Homo sapiens: one gene and its partner. The protein of the gene in region 2 interacts with the protein of the main gene of each other region in a biochemical or structural test. Each region holds a gene or a part of one and is shown on either strand. Other genes may lie near its edges.

The links.
Region 1: of the proteins of PTPRC (region 2) and TIE1, one has a biochemical effect on the other in vitro, tested with the Homo sapiens proteins (one large-scale study listed by IntAct).

Annotation. Positions count from the first base shown.
Region 1 is NC_000001.11:43,307,482-43,310,981, reverse strand, and holds part of TIE1 (tyrosine-protein kinase receptor Tie-1 isoform 1 precursor), read right to left. Parts: coding exon 3,410-3,500; intron 3,187-3,409; coding exon 3,058-3,186; intron 1,997-3,057; coding exon 1,851-1,996; intron 1,595-1,850; coding exon 1,450-1,594; intron 1-1,449. UniProt on the Homo sapiens protein: Transmembrane tyrosine-protein kinase that may modulate TEK/TIE2 activity and contribute to the regulation of angiogenesis.
Region 2 is NC_000001.11:198,642,040-198,645,539, reverse strand, and holds part of PTPRC (receptor-type tyrosine-protein phosphatase C isoform 1 precursor), read right to left. Parts: intron 1-3,500. UniProt on the Homo sapiens protein: Protein tyrosine-protein phosphatase required for T-cell activation through the antigen receptor. Acts as a positive regulator of T-cell coactivation upon binding to DPP4.

The DNA of each region.
Region 1 (3,500 bases), about 160 Mb from region 2:
TGCATTAGTGCTTTTAACAGGTTCCCTTGACTCTTACAAATGTTTACCAGATTGGCTTTTTGAGAGGAAAGGAAGGAAGGAAAGAGGGAGGGAGCGAGGGAGGAAAAGGATGCCGCGCTGTAAGCTGAGGGAGTGTCAGGCAGCAATGAGCATGTCAGGAGGGCAGTGCTGATTTGCGGGGAGATGAAGGTCCATTTTGGGTGCAGAGAAGCCCTTGGTGCCTTTGGCTCACGCAGGGGATTAGATGTCCAGGAAGTGGCTGGATATAAAATGGGCCTCCGAATCATACAGCAGCTACTTTCCACACCAACTTCAAAACCAGACTTCCAGAGTAGATGCCCCACTTCATGGAGTCCCCACCAAATGATCTGGAGTCAGAAGAGGGGTCCTGGCTGCAGATCATATGTGAGAGCTGCCAGAGAACTATCAAAATCTAGGGACTAGGTGACATTTTAAATAATAACAATAATTATCGACATACATTGAGCACACACCCTGTATCGGGCACTGTGCTAAATGCTTAAATACATCATCAAATTTAATCTTTGTAACAACCCCATCAAGTGCTAGCTATCCCCATTTCACAAAGAGAGAAACAAAGTAAGAGAGGTTAAGTAGTTTCCTTAAGGTGATGGGGCAAGGAATTTGTGGAGAGAGGATTCAAGCCCAGGTTGTCTGGCTCCTAAGCCTGGGCACAGTGAGAAGAGAAAGGCGGAAGGTGAGGCTTGATGGCAGAGAGTCATGCATAGTCACGGGATAGGGAGATGGCGAGGACCTGGGAGGCAGAGTGTGGCAACGAGAAAGCAGAAGGTGAGAGAGGGGGCTTACATGGGGTGGCAGGAGCAGAGGGACAGCAGGGTCAGGGGGTGGCAGGGGTGTGAATGGTTAAGACTTAGGGTGCTGGAGAAGCTGGAGAAGGCGAAGGAGGCCTTAGAGCAGGTGGGGGTGCTCTGGTCTGAGTAATCTTGGGCACTGGGAGGTCCCTCCTTATTTACCTGGAAGATTTCTAGGCATGCACCACTTCTAGGAAGCCAAGCTGGTCACCCTCTGAGCTCCATAGCCCCATATGCTCCCCTGGGCTAGCACTGAGTGTCTGTGGGGTGACTCAGAGATGGGAGGCAGCATCCCAGAGCAGAGTTAAAGGTATACTTGTCTGTGTGTGACGGTTGGTGGGGGACAGCATGGCTGGGCAGGAGGAAGGGCGGGGCTGGAGAGTGTCCCCAGTTTCTGGGGCACGGGATGTCCTTTCCAGATGGGTCTAAGCTGTACTCCAGCCTTGACACTGCCCAGCCCGGACCTCTGGTTGACCACAACCCCGCTTTTTGTCTGGTGCTAGGCTATGACCTTAGATGTCCTTGTCCTTCCTGCTAGTATCTCCAGCCTGAGCAGCATCATCTAGAGCCTACTCTGCTCACCGTCCATTCCCTGTGGACCTAGGACATCACTGACCTTTCACATTGACCTTGAAGCGCCGGCTGTCTTGGCCGCCAGATGTGGACACACGGCACTCCCAGAACCCACTGTCCGCAAGAACCAAGCGGGGCACCTCGAACTCAGCTGTGGTCTTCTCTGGCTCCACAATGGCCTTGGTGGACTAAAAGAGATGGGGGAAGGGGACAGGTCACAGGGAACGGGCACCTCTGTGGCAGGCACCCAGGTGTCCGTCTGGACTGATGGCAGGACAGAGGCCCAGTGGCAGCCCCCTCACCAATCAGCCTGACCTCATGTGAGCAATGGTCAGGCCAATGGGTGGGCCCTGCAGAAAGTTCTGAGGGACTAGGGGGTCTTAGGGATCAGCTGTGAAGCAGGCGGCCTGAGGGGCTGGTGGGTTGGGGTGATTGGGGGCTGACCAGGAGCACAGTGCCGTCTGGCTTGCGTAGCTCTATGCTGCCCCGCACGGGGAAGGGGTTCCCTGCAGCTGCACAGTTGATCCGGGGCATCGTCTCTAAGTTGAACTCCAGTTCTGAGGCCATGTTGAGGATCTGGGGGATCCGGTCTGGGGAGAAAGGACACTCATCCTGGAGCTCCCACAGGGGCAGACACGTGACCACCAAAGCGCCCCTCATCCGTGTTCTGTTTCTCAGTGGAGGTATCTACCCAGTCCCTCCAGCCTGAAAACCAGCAAAGGCCCGCATGACTCCTCCAGCGTCCCAGCCCCACATCCCATCAGCTGCAAAGTCTACTTCCTAACCACCTCCCCACTTCCCGATACCGTCTAATACCTGCCAGCAGACCCCTCACCATCCTCCCAGCCAGCACACTAGCTCAGGCCTCATCATTTCTGGTCCCTAGGTACAGAGTCCTCGAGGGTCTCCTGCTCCCGCTCCCCGGCCAGCAGCTAGGGGTCCTTTCTCCAACACGGATCTGACTACCTTGTTCCTTTTTAACAATTCCCTCTTGCCCCATCATATGAAGTGCAAACTCTTTGGCCTTCATTCAAAGGCCCCACGATTTGACCTCTTCTGACCATTTCCCCAGTCCCCCACTCCACTGTCCTGGTACCCAAACCTGAGTCCCCAATCCCTGGGTCCCCTACCCCACTGTCCTGGCACCCAAACCTGAGTCCCCAATCCCTGGGTCCCCTACTCCACTGTCCTGGCACCCAAACCTGAGTCCCCAATCCCTGGGTCCCCTACTCCACTGTCCTGGCACCCAAACCTGAGTCCCCAATCCCTGGGTCTTTGCTCTTGTTCTTTCCTCAGTTATCTCTCTTTTGTCCTTCATATCTAATCTCAGATCACACCTGCTTCCAGACCCTTCTCTGACCTGCTCAGTCTGCCCAGGGGCATCCTCTGGGCTCCCACATTCTCTGGGCTGCTGCCCTTTCCACTATGGCTGGCTGGCAGTGAGCTCCTTGCTGGACTGGCTCCCTGCTGGACTGACTCCCTACCAGACTGACTCCCTGCCAGAGCTCCCTGTCCATCAGACTCTAAGCTCCCTGAGGGCAGGACTTGGACCCTCGTAGGGAAAGGAGGGACTACTCTCTTCCACCGGGGAGATGTGTTTGGTAAAGGCCGACTTATCTTGGGGGGCTCTCAGAGGTCATAGTGCTTATACCTGACTTCTCACAGTGCACTCCATGCCACCCAGAGGGGCAGACACAACCACTGAACCGGTCACAAGTGCCACCATTCTGACACTGGCACTGGAGTCGGCAATCAGCCCCAAAATGACCAGGGGCACAAGCTGGGAATAGAGGAGGTATGATTAGAGGGGCATGGGACAGGGGGCAATGAGGGCACAGATGAGGGCGCAGATGGGGCACAGGTTATACAACAGGCTGAGGATAGAAGGACTGGTCAAGTGAGCAGGAGGGCTTGCTGCGTAAGTCAGAGGCAGAGTGGAGGGTCCGGGTCAAGCTCCTGGCCAGCTGTCTTGGTCAGGGACCATGAGGGTAGGTTAGGCATACCTTCTTGGCACTGGCTTCCTCTCCAGCCAGATCCACAAGAGCAGCCATAGGGGTCTGGGAGGCAGAAGGTGAGGCCCCGGCAGCCTGATAT
Region 2 (3,500 bases):
TAGATGAGGAAATTGGGTCTCAAGGGTGAAAATTGATTTAGCTAAAAATCACAAGATTCATAGAGTTAGATTTTCAAAATATTTATCACTACAGATGTCATGATGTTTCCCAGCTTGGAGTGGTTTCTGCCTCATTTTCTATTATGCTTAATATGTTTTATCAGTAAATTATTATATTTTTCATCAAGTGGATGTGTTTAAAATATAGTGGCCACACTGTATTGCCATGATATTTATTGTGATTTTGATATTGTCTCTTAGCATCATTGTTATTTGTATAGGTTTCTCTAAACTATCTCTTGAATGACCACAGACAAATTGTACTTTAATTTAAAATGCAGAGAATGTCTTCTTGTCTATCAGTGATTTCTATCAAGTTTGCTATACCAGCTGTTCATATCCTAATACGTATGAGTGTGTTACCTGAGTTACCCTCAACTTTTGCCTTCTACTCCTACATTAGCAAATCCCTATTTTGGAGGGTGGATGGTTTTCTTCCAGGTATGCAAATTTTGATTATATTCTTAAATAAATGAATGATGATCATTTATACTTCAATATAATTGCATTGTAATTACAGTTTTATAATAAATACCCTGTATAGTAGAAACTGAAGTTTCAGTTAGGTGGCTTTTTCCTTTCAGACACTTGACTCATTTTTAGAGGAAATAAATATTGAATCTTTAAATACTATAGAGTTAAGCACCATAGAATATATTTGTTTAAGCTCGGTCTCTACTAAAATCTCTAATAAAAACTGATAATTTTGCTGATTGTCTGTTAAGAAATCAATCAATTGAAGGTACTATGAATGGATATAGAAGATGCTTGTTTACTTCACTAATATTGACTTTATGTGTATTTATTCTTGTCCTAGATGAAAGAGTAGGAAAGCTTTTGTTTCTCTATTTGTTCTTGTTTTTTGTTGTGATTCCTGAACATATAATTCTCTGCTTATAGTAGTCATTCCTAGACTCTTTTAACAGACTGATATTGAAGTAGCACACTGACATACAAACAGGAATGAAGATTAAATATTTTAGACAATAATTAGATATTTTCTAATATAAATATTGGTTAGAGCCAGGTACACAAAATCCAGTGATTGCCATAATTTTTATTCCTGTATATTTGGGTATTATATAGAAATAGGCATCAAATCATATTGCTAAAGTCTTGCCATATTTTTTTTCTGGTGTATCATATCTTAAAAAGTGAGGTCTTTATGTATGCAAAAGTCATAGCACTAAGCCTTTGGTAAAAGGCCACTGCTATGGGATTGAGTATCTAGTACTTACAAAGATATTTAGACTAGACAGAAATTAATTTTAAACTGAAGATATGTTAAATTTCCATTCTAATTGTTTCCCATGTAAATAACTACATAAATCTATAAGATGTCTAGAAAAAAAAATCAAAGGTCAGCACTGATGAAAAATTTCTCTCTCTGCACCAAGGTGACATATACACACATGGTCTGAAGATGAAACCTTGCCTTTGTGAACATTGTGTATTTACCAAGAGAATGAATCAACCTCAGTACAAATCTCTGCCCCTTACCTACTCAGATTGACATTCATCACCACACTGTCTGTAAAGAAATTATTCCCAGCTCTCTACAAACTTTTGTCGTGCAAATAATGCAACACCTAGGGTGCACCATATTCCATCTGCCCTTGCAAGCAATCCCAGAGCACTAGCATCAGTGTTCAAACCAGCAATTGCCATGACTGGACCTGATCTGTTTGTGTTATCACTCCGCTACATTTGTATTTCCCTCCCATTCCTTGCTTTTTCTCCTATGGGTATGTGTATCTGAAAAATAAAATTGACCCTCCAAATTACATTACCTAGAATGTCCAAAGAGCAGATCAAAGAAAATTTAGGAAAAACATTCTCAAACTATGAACTTTTAGGAAGTCAGGAGGCTCTTTCCAGACGAGAGGTGAGATAAGGAGAGTAAGAAAGGGAGCAAAGAAAAAACAAACAAACAAACAAACAAAAACAAAAAGGCAAGACTGTAAACATCTAGATCCAAAATCAACTTAATTTAATCTGGACAAAATAGTCCTGCTGTCTTCATCCTCCCACTTCGCCTCTGGTTAATTTTTTTATCTCATATTCTCCCTCTTTTTGACTTCCCTCTTTGAAAATTTTCCTTTCCTTTGTCACTACAATATGCAGTTTTATTTTTTTAATCTATGATTTATTCAGTGTCTGGTGAAAAATTAGGTATGGGAACTATGAGTTTATGCCTTTTGTGTCTCCTATACCTGATTTCATGTAGGTTACAATGTCAAGAAATCCACTAATTCACATGTCATCATCATCATCAATCATCATCACAAAAAAGAGCAGATTGAAATGACTTGAAAAATGCCAAGAAAAGGTGATAAAAAGTGTGCAATTCAATGGAAATATTTTGTGGCAAAAGTGACATAAGAGAACATAATAGAAGAAGTAGGATTTGCCCAGAACCTTAAACACCTTGAGAAAGTATAGAGGTGGGTGTTAAAACTACCTCCTGTTTGTTTTCTTTTAATCAATCATAGAAGAAAAAGAAAGAAAAAAGAAAGAAAGAAAGAAAGAAAGAAAGAAAGAAAGAAAGAAAGAAAGAAAGAAAGAAAGAAAGGAAGAAAGAAAGAAAAGAAAAAAGATCCCTTCCCAGCTCCAGGCCTAGCCCCCAGATCATTAGTGGAACCAGTTTCTCTGGCAAAAAAGATTAGAATTTATACCAAAGGCAATGAGAAGAAATCAGTAACCCTTCACTTTTTATTTTACTTTTTAAGCTGTAGATTACATTAAAAAAAGGATGAGACTTCAGACTGATTAAAAAAACTATTACAATTTTACAGGTGAGAAATAATAAAGCCATGAATTAAGATGATGGCAATGGAGGTGTCAAAGCAAGAAGTTATTAGAGATTATTACAAAGCAAAATTTCAGGACTTGGGGAGCATGTTAATGTCTGGATTTAGGAAAGGTAGTAAGTTCCGTGTTTCTGAGGGATGAGTCTAGAGATGGAGAATCAGAGTGATCAACACATAGTAGGCAATGATACGTAACCAAATGGAGAAAAGAGAACACAGGCGAAGGTCTGAAGTTCATGGGAACGCCAAATAGACAAACATGGAGAACTGATAGATAGATAGATAGATAGATAGATAGACAGATAGATAGATTGACTAGTATATATAACCCACAAATATATAACTAGTTTATGTGTGAGTATCTACATAAAGAAATATATGTTCAAGTATATGAACAATGTAGAAACATCTATATTTCTATACTGGTTAATTGTCACTGGTGAGAGGATAGCAAATAGTCCAGAACAAAGAAAGAACTAAGTTCAAGCTAACTACTCTGCCCCTATACTTACTTACACAGAACAAAAGAGAAAAAGATAATATAGGCCCTAGCCGTAGTCTTTCCTGTAACAAAGTACATTTCAAACTTTAGCAATGATAAAGGTCACAGGCAGGTTTTTAGTAGGACAT